Linked DNA regions of Homo sapiens. The protein of the gene in region 2 interacts with the protein of the main gene of each other region in a pairwise test. Each region holds a gene or a part of one and is shown on either strand. Other genes may lie near its edges.

Region 1 (3,656 bases), 9.5 Mb from region 2:
ATCACCTAGAATAAATATAAAAACAAAAACTAAATCTAACAAAATGGACTATTAATCATTTTACCCATACCTCAAAAGTAATTTCTAATATAGTTCAGTAGTTAATGTCTAAATTTTTAAAATTCAAATTTTCCCCATTTTTAATACCAAAATAATTGCTTTGTTAATGCTCTCTTAAAAAACAGAAGAATCCTTCAGCCTTCCAAGTAGAAACACACTTTAAAATTTATTATTTTTTGGCCAGGTGCTTTGGCCCACGCCTGTAATCCCAGCAGTTTGGGAGGCTGAGGCGGACAGATCACTTAAGGCCAGGAGTTCAAGACCAGCCCAGTCAACATGGTGAAATCCCGTCTCTACTAAAAATACAAAAATTAGCCAGGTGTGGCGTCAGGCGCCCATAATCCCAGCCACTCAGGAGGCTGAGGGACGAGAATTGCTTGAACCCGGGAGGTGGAGGTTGCAGTGAGCCAAGATCACACCACTGCACTCCAATCTGGATGACAGAGCAAGACTCTATCTCAAAAAAAAAAAAAAAAAATCTAAATACACATAAAAAAAATTATGGTGGTAAAGGCTGCACAACAATATGAATGTACTTAATGTCCCTAAACTTAGAAATGGTTAAAACGGCAAATTTTATGTTATACATATATTTTGCCACAGTTTAAAAAAATTATTTAAATCTCTTTTACTTTTTTTTTGAGACAGAGTCTTGCTATGTTGCCCAGGCTGGTGTGCAGTAGCGTGATCTCTGCTCATTGCAATCTCCACCTTCCGGGTTCAAGTGATCCTCGTGCCCCAGCCTCCCAAGTGGCTGGGACTACAGGTGTGTGCCACTATGCCCAGCTGATTTTTTTGTATATTTTGGTAGAGATGGGGTTTCGCCATGCTGGTCAGGCCGGTCTCAAAACTCCTGGCCTAAAGTGATCTGACTGCCTCAGCCTCCCAAAGTGCTGGGATTACAGGTGTGAGCCACCGTGCCCAGCCTATTTCTCTATCATTTAATTTTACAAGTCCTATTTTGTCATTGACTTTTACTATACATGCTAAAACAAGCATTTTCAAATACTTTTTGCAGCAACCTACCTTAAGAAATACATATAACATTGTAACCCAGGACAACATACACACTCTTCCTGAACCTATGAATAAAAGTCAGATCCTTTAGCAGAAGGAATATTTGTTATGGTAAACTCCTATGCAACAAATAACATCTGATATAGCTGCCACCTAATACATATTCATTAAATGAATAAATATATAAAAGGTTGATGGAGTCATTGCCTGCAGGGCCCCCCTTCCTCCTGGCTCTTAAAAAAAAAAAAGCCATTCTGTGTTGTGGTTCTCCCAAAAAAACTGGACTGAACATATCTATCCTCAGCCTTGCCCCTAGAAGGCTTTCTCCTTAATTTTTAACACATATTCTACAACAAGCTGAGTTCTATCTATTTACATAAAGGTTAAGAAGTACACTAAGTGATCATTTAAAAATATAGTCTTGACAATTTTCTAAATATCCAGTCACTATATAATGAATATATACAAATAAACCTCTAGCATTATTACTAGGTAGTGCCTAATATTTATATCACTTAATTCTGTGTCAAAACAACTCTATAATCTCAATGGCTTAACACAACAAAGATTTATTTTTTGCATCATGCAACATCTCAGGGATTAGGGAAGACAAGAGAGACTCTGTTCCCCACTGACCACAAACAGGGACACAGCCTACCGAGCCTCCAACCATCTGGACCACCTCACTGCAGCAAGGAGAAGAATTTACTTTGAAAATCATAAACCTTCTCTTATTAACTTCTACCTGGATGCTAACACTTCACTTCTGCTTACATTTCACTGATCAATGAACATCACACAGTGATGCGTAAGAGGGCAAGGAAGTGTAATTTCACCATATGAGCAGAAGAAAATCAGGAATATTGCTGAATGGTATTAATAACTACTCATATTCTTCTTGGACTAGAGAGAAATTCTGATTCAGGATTCAGAGAAGTCAGAGAGGAGGATGGATGTATTCAGTCTAGTTCCCTGTCATAAATTTCTAGTTTTGTTAAACATTGAGGATAGTAACTCTTCACATTGTGGTATTAATGTAGAGAAGGTAAAGTGCTCTTCAAAAAGGTAGAAGAGCCAGGTGTGGTGGCTCATGCCTGTAATCCCAGCACTTTGGGAGGCTGAGGTGGATCACTTGAGGTCAGGAGTTCGAGACCAGCCAGGCCAACATGGTGAAACCCCATCTCTACTAAAAATACACAAATTAGTCAGGCGTGGTGGCAGGTGCCTGTAATCCCAGCTACTCAGGAGGCTGAGGCAGGAGAATCGCTTGAACCCCAGAGGTGAAGGCTGCAGTGAGCTGAGATCGCGCCACAGCACTCCAGCCTGGGTGACGGAGTAACACTCTGCTTTAAAAAAAAAAAAAAAAAAAAAAGTAGAAGAAAGGTTCTATTCTCTATTTGAAAAACATTACTATTTCTTTAAGCATAGTTTTTTTGTTTGTTTGTCTGAGACCAAGTTTTGCTCTTGTTGCCCAGGCTGGAGGGCAATGGCGTGATCTAGGCTCACTGCAACCTCCATCTCCCAGGCTCAAGCGATTCTCCTGCCTCAGCCTCCCAAGTAGCTGGGATTACAGGCATCCACCACCATGCCTAGCTAATTTTTACATTTTTAGAAGAAAAGGGGTCTCACCATTTTGGCCAGGCTGGCCTTGAACTCCTGACTTCAGGTGATCCACCCATCTTAGCCTTGCAAAGTTCTGGATTACAGGTATGAGCCACCTCACCTGGCCTAAGTATAGTTTTATATAAAGAAATAGTATGATATATGCATATTTCACATAATAAAAGACCAAATAAAAGTACAGAGACTTTCCCAATCCCTATTATTTCTTGGCTACTGGTAAGTTAATGCTATCTATAATGTTATTACTGTCTATTAGTTGTCAGGCAAATAGACTATTTATATACATCAAAGATCACCAAAACCTTAAAAATCCTTTTCTTTCTCCAGAAAATATTTTAAAACCATGTTTCTTAGCATTTCAAAGTCTTCCAGCCTAAAATTATAGGTACTCTTGCTTCCTTTTTTGGTGGATAAATTATTTTGAATGTGTTCCACTTGAAAAATAGTATGAATATATTAAAACTGTCTTAGATAGTGCAACTGACCTGGAAAAAAAATGGCAACCTTAAACTCTTTTGGAGAAAACTCCCTTATCAAAAAGAGTAAACTTACAGAACTTACGTTTGTAAAATAACTGTTCAAATGTTAGTAAATGCTATTATTTCCAAATCTGGTATCTGAAAATAACTTAGTTTGAAATACGTAAAGAAAAGTTTTAAAAGTATACAGAAAACTGCAAAAAAAAGCCACAAACCCTTCAAACTCATTTTAACAGAAAATAAAGAGTAATTATCACAAGCTACAAACACTTCTGTCCTTGATATTAGTAAATAAAAACATGGTGAGACTCAAATGACTTATCTGTATTTTCATTATTGGCTTATTTATTTGTAAAGAAAACATTGTTCTATTGGGTTTATGGCTTCAGGCAAATGATTCACTCTGTGATACACATTCTTATTTATTTGAATCAGGGTAGCACGTTTTTCTCAGGTGTCTTAAAGCTCTTTACAGAT
Region 2 (3,656 bases):
GAGGACCTTGTGACTTGGAGGAGTTCTAAAAGTGCTCAAGTCACACGCTAGGAAGGGACACAGCCTAGACTTCAACCCTATAGGGCTGACCCTGTAACTTCTATTATTCTGCCTCCTCTAAGCAGATGGGAGCAGTGGGCAAAGAAGGGCTACAGCAGTGACTCGGAGATGAAGGGGAGTTAAACTTTATTCCATGTTGGCATTTTGCTCAGTTTTCAGGGACAGGGTGGAGCCGTGCATAGCCCAAAGCTGTCTGGTGCTGCAGGCAACTCCAGGGAGTGTTCAGCTTTGGGGACAGGGTCAAGGACCACTGTCCTAGAAAAAAAGGATAGGAAATGTTTTCACAGTTACATGATGGAACCCGAGGTGACTGCAGGATTAATAATAATAATAATGATAATAACAATAATAAATAGATAATTCAGCAATCATCCATTGAGCACTCATCATATTCCAGACCCTAGAGTACAAAGAGGAGAAAGCAAGGCGTTCAGGAGGGGATTGCAATTGATGTGGGAGGAAAGACAGGTAAACATATGGTTTTGAAGCTCCATGAGTAGTGCTGTGATAGAGTTTGTGAGGGCATTGCAGAGGAAGGAATGGTCCAGAGAAGTTGAGGTTTTCTGGGATCCCATAGACCTTGTTCCAGTATCTCCTCTGCCACTTCCTAGCTAGCTCTGTGACCTTAGGCAGATGAGCTAACCTCTCTGTCTCAATTTCTTCAGTTATAAAGAGGATAAAATCTCTCCTGCAATGTTGTGGAAAGTGAAGTGTGTAGGTGTGTAGGTCAGCAAGGTGGAGCTATTCTTTTTTTTTTTTTTTTTTGGAGACAGTGTCTCACTCTGTTTCTCAGGATGGAATGCAGTAGTGCCATCGTGGCTCACGGCAACCTCTGCCTCCCGGGTTCCAGCAATTCTCCTGCCTCAGCCTCCTGAGTAGCTGGAACTACAGGCGTGCGCCACCACACCAGGCTAATTTTTGTATTTTTAGTAGAGATGGGGTTTCACCATGTTGGCCAGGCTGATCTTGAACTCCTGACCTCAGGTGATCCACCCGTCTCAGCCTCCCAAAGTGTTGGGATTACAGGCGTGAGCCACCGTGCCCGGCCAGGTGGAGCTGTTCTTATTAGCAGTCCTAAGAAAGAGCCATATTTCCTACAGAGATCAGGGTGACCTTCACATATTATAGAAGGTGAGTTTTGAGCTGGTTCTTAAAAGATTGTAGGAATCGGTCAAGCACACAGTGGAGAGAACCCAAAATAATAACAAGGGCCAAGATGTCATAGAATGGAAAGGTATGAAATTGTCAAGAAACTGAGACATATTCAAGGAACTTCTGAAGAGGTAGGGGTGGGGATTTGAGATGGGCGGTGCAGAAGCTGAGCATGACCATGCCGTGAGGTCTGACCATGCCGTGAGGGCTTTGTTTGCCCAGTTTAGAACCCTGGCCTTTGTCCTGAAAAGATGCAAAACGTTTGATGGGTTTAGACAGAAGGATCACAGGATCAGACCTAACCAGCCAGAAGAGTGCATTGTTGGCTGAGATAGTCTAGAAAATTCTAGAGAAGGAAGCTCTCTTTTGCAGGAGAAAGGAAATGCACACTTTTTTACTTTTCTTGTGACGGCTTATAAATAACCAGGCTAGCAGACAATACCACAGAGCTTTCTGTTCCATTTTCTCTGAAAGCTGCCTGCAATGAATTAAGCTGACGTGCTCCAAATTCCAAGTCTCTAGGATAAGTGCTTCATCCCCCATCTTGCTGCATCCAACCTCTGACAGGTCTCAATAAATGTTAAGCAATAATCATTACAGCTAAATGTTCAGGGCTGCTGATGTAAGCATTGGATAGTGGCTGCCTGGAATTTTAACAGCAGCACTACTAACTCATATTATTTCTACCAAACCCAGGGCAGGAAAGGAGGAAATCCAAAGATAAAGGGACAATCCAAGTTCAAGTCAGTGCTATAGTGGGATGATTTATCCAACTGCTTTACCACATTAAACTTTCACATAAAGTTTCAACTCTCCTAGACTAACAACAACGACAACACCCACTTCAGTGTAGTGCAGAAGCCTCAGTGATCTCAAAACAATTATTGTTAAAAATGATCACAAAAATAAAATCCGTAAGGCTAGGAAAGCTTTTTTTTTTTTTTTTTTTTTTTGAGACATAGTCTTGCTCTGTCGCCCAGGCTGGAGTGCAGGTGCGATCTCGGCTCACTGCAACCTCTGCCTCCTGAGTTCAAGCGATTCTCCCACCTCAGCCTCCACAGTAGCTGGGACTACAGGCGCCCGCCACCACACCTGGCTAATTTTTGTATTTTTGTATTTTTAGTAGAGATGGGGTTTCACTATGTTGGCCAGGCTGGTCTCGAACTCCTGACCTCAGGTGATCCGCCTACCTTGGCCTCCCAAAGTGCTGGGATTACAGGCATGAGCCACCACACCCAGCCTTAGTGGCTCATATCTATAATGCCAGCATTTTGGGAGGCCAAGATGGGAGGATTGCTTGAGGCCAGGGGTTCTAGACTAGTCTGGGTAACAAAGTGAGACCCTTGTCTCTACAAAAAAATGATGACAAAAAAATTAGCCAGAGGAGGAGATGTGTCTGTAGTTCCAGTTACATGGGAGGTTGAGATGGGAGGATTGCTTAAGCCCAGGAGTTTGAGGCTGAAGTGAGCTATGATCAAGCCACAGTACTCCAGCCTGGGTGACAGATCCTATCTCTCTCTAAAAAAAAAAAAAAAAAAAAATCCCTCACTCTCTTTTGATAAATCAACTGTGATAAACACTCAGCAATCATTTAATGTTTGATCAAATGACTAAGCTCCTTTCCATTTTTGAAACCCTATGACTGTATCTAAACATGAGAAGAAAGTCAATTTAAAGTCAGTTGCAGAAGCATTTTAGTAAATCTATACCCCTTAAAGCTGATTTATAGGCTGAAAACACTTGGGAAATTTATCTTATCATGACTCAGTTGCCTAGAATGGCTCCTAGTTATAATCAGCACTCAGAAAAATTGGTTGAAAAAAATATTTGATATAGGCAGATTCCATTGGAGAAATTCACCTTCCCCTTTCTGCTATTCTGCTGTCCCAGGATTTTTCTAGTTATTTCATTGTGTAAGTGAGCAAATCCCCAAACCACGTTTATTGAATTTCTTTTTATTTCAAATAAGATGGAAATTTTTGGGTGGCACATGTGTCAGAATGTACTAACTCTCCATCTAATATCTCCTCCCTCACTTAGAAACAGAAATCCAATTTTGGAGGGATAGCAACGTGGCCAGCTAAAAGACTCCTTGTTGATAGCTGTGAATATATGACCAAAGTTTAGAGGCCAATGAGATGCAAGCGGAAGTGTGGCACTTAAGCCAGATGAGTTCTTAATGGGAGCTGATTCACATGGGGACACGCATTTTTCCCCCTCTCTACTTCCTTCCTCCTGCTCCATCAGCCCCTCGAGGAGAGAAGCCATACATTAGGTGACGGGGCACATAGATGGAAAGAGCCTATGTTGCTTATGATTGTGGAGCCACCAAATGTCTGGGAACTGCCTACTTCAGACTTCTTTCATGTGATAGCAATAAACTTTTTTTTTTTTTTTGAGACAGGGCCTCACTTTGTCACCAAGTCTGGGGTGCAGTGGTGCGA

What was found.
Region 1: the proteins of ANKRD55 (region 2) and TRIM23 interact in binary tests that used the Homo sapiens proteins (3 or more experiments, as listed by UniProt).

Annotation. Positions count from the first base shown.
Region 1 is NC_000005.10:65,614,215-65,617,870, forward strand, and holds part of TRIM23 (E3 ubiquitin-protein ligase TRIM23), read right to left. Parts: intron 6-3,656; coding exon 1-5.
Region 2 is NC_000005.10:56,104,279-56,107,934, forward strand, and holds part of ANKRD55 (ankyrin repeat domain-containing protein 55), read right to left. Parts: intron 1-3,656.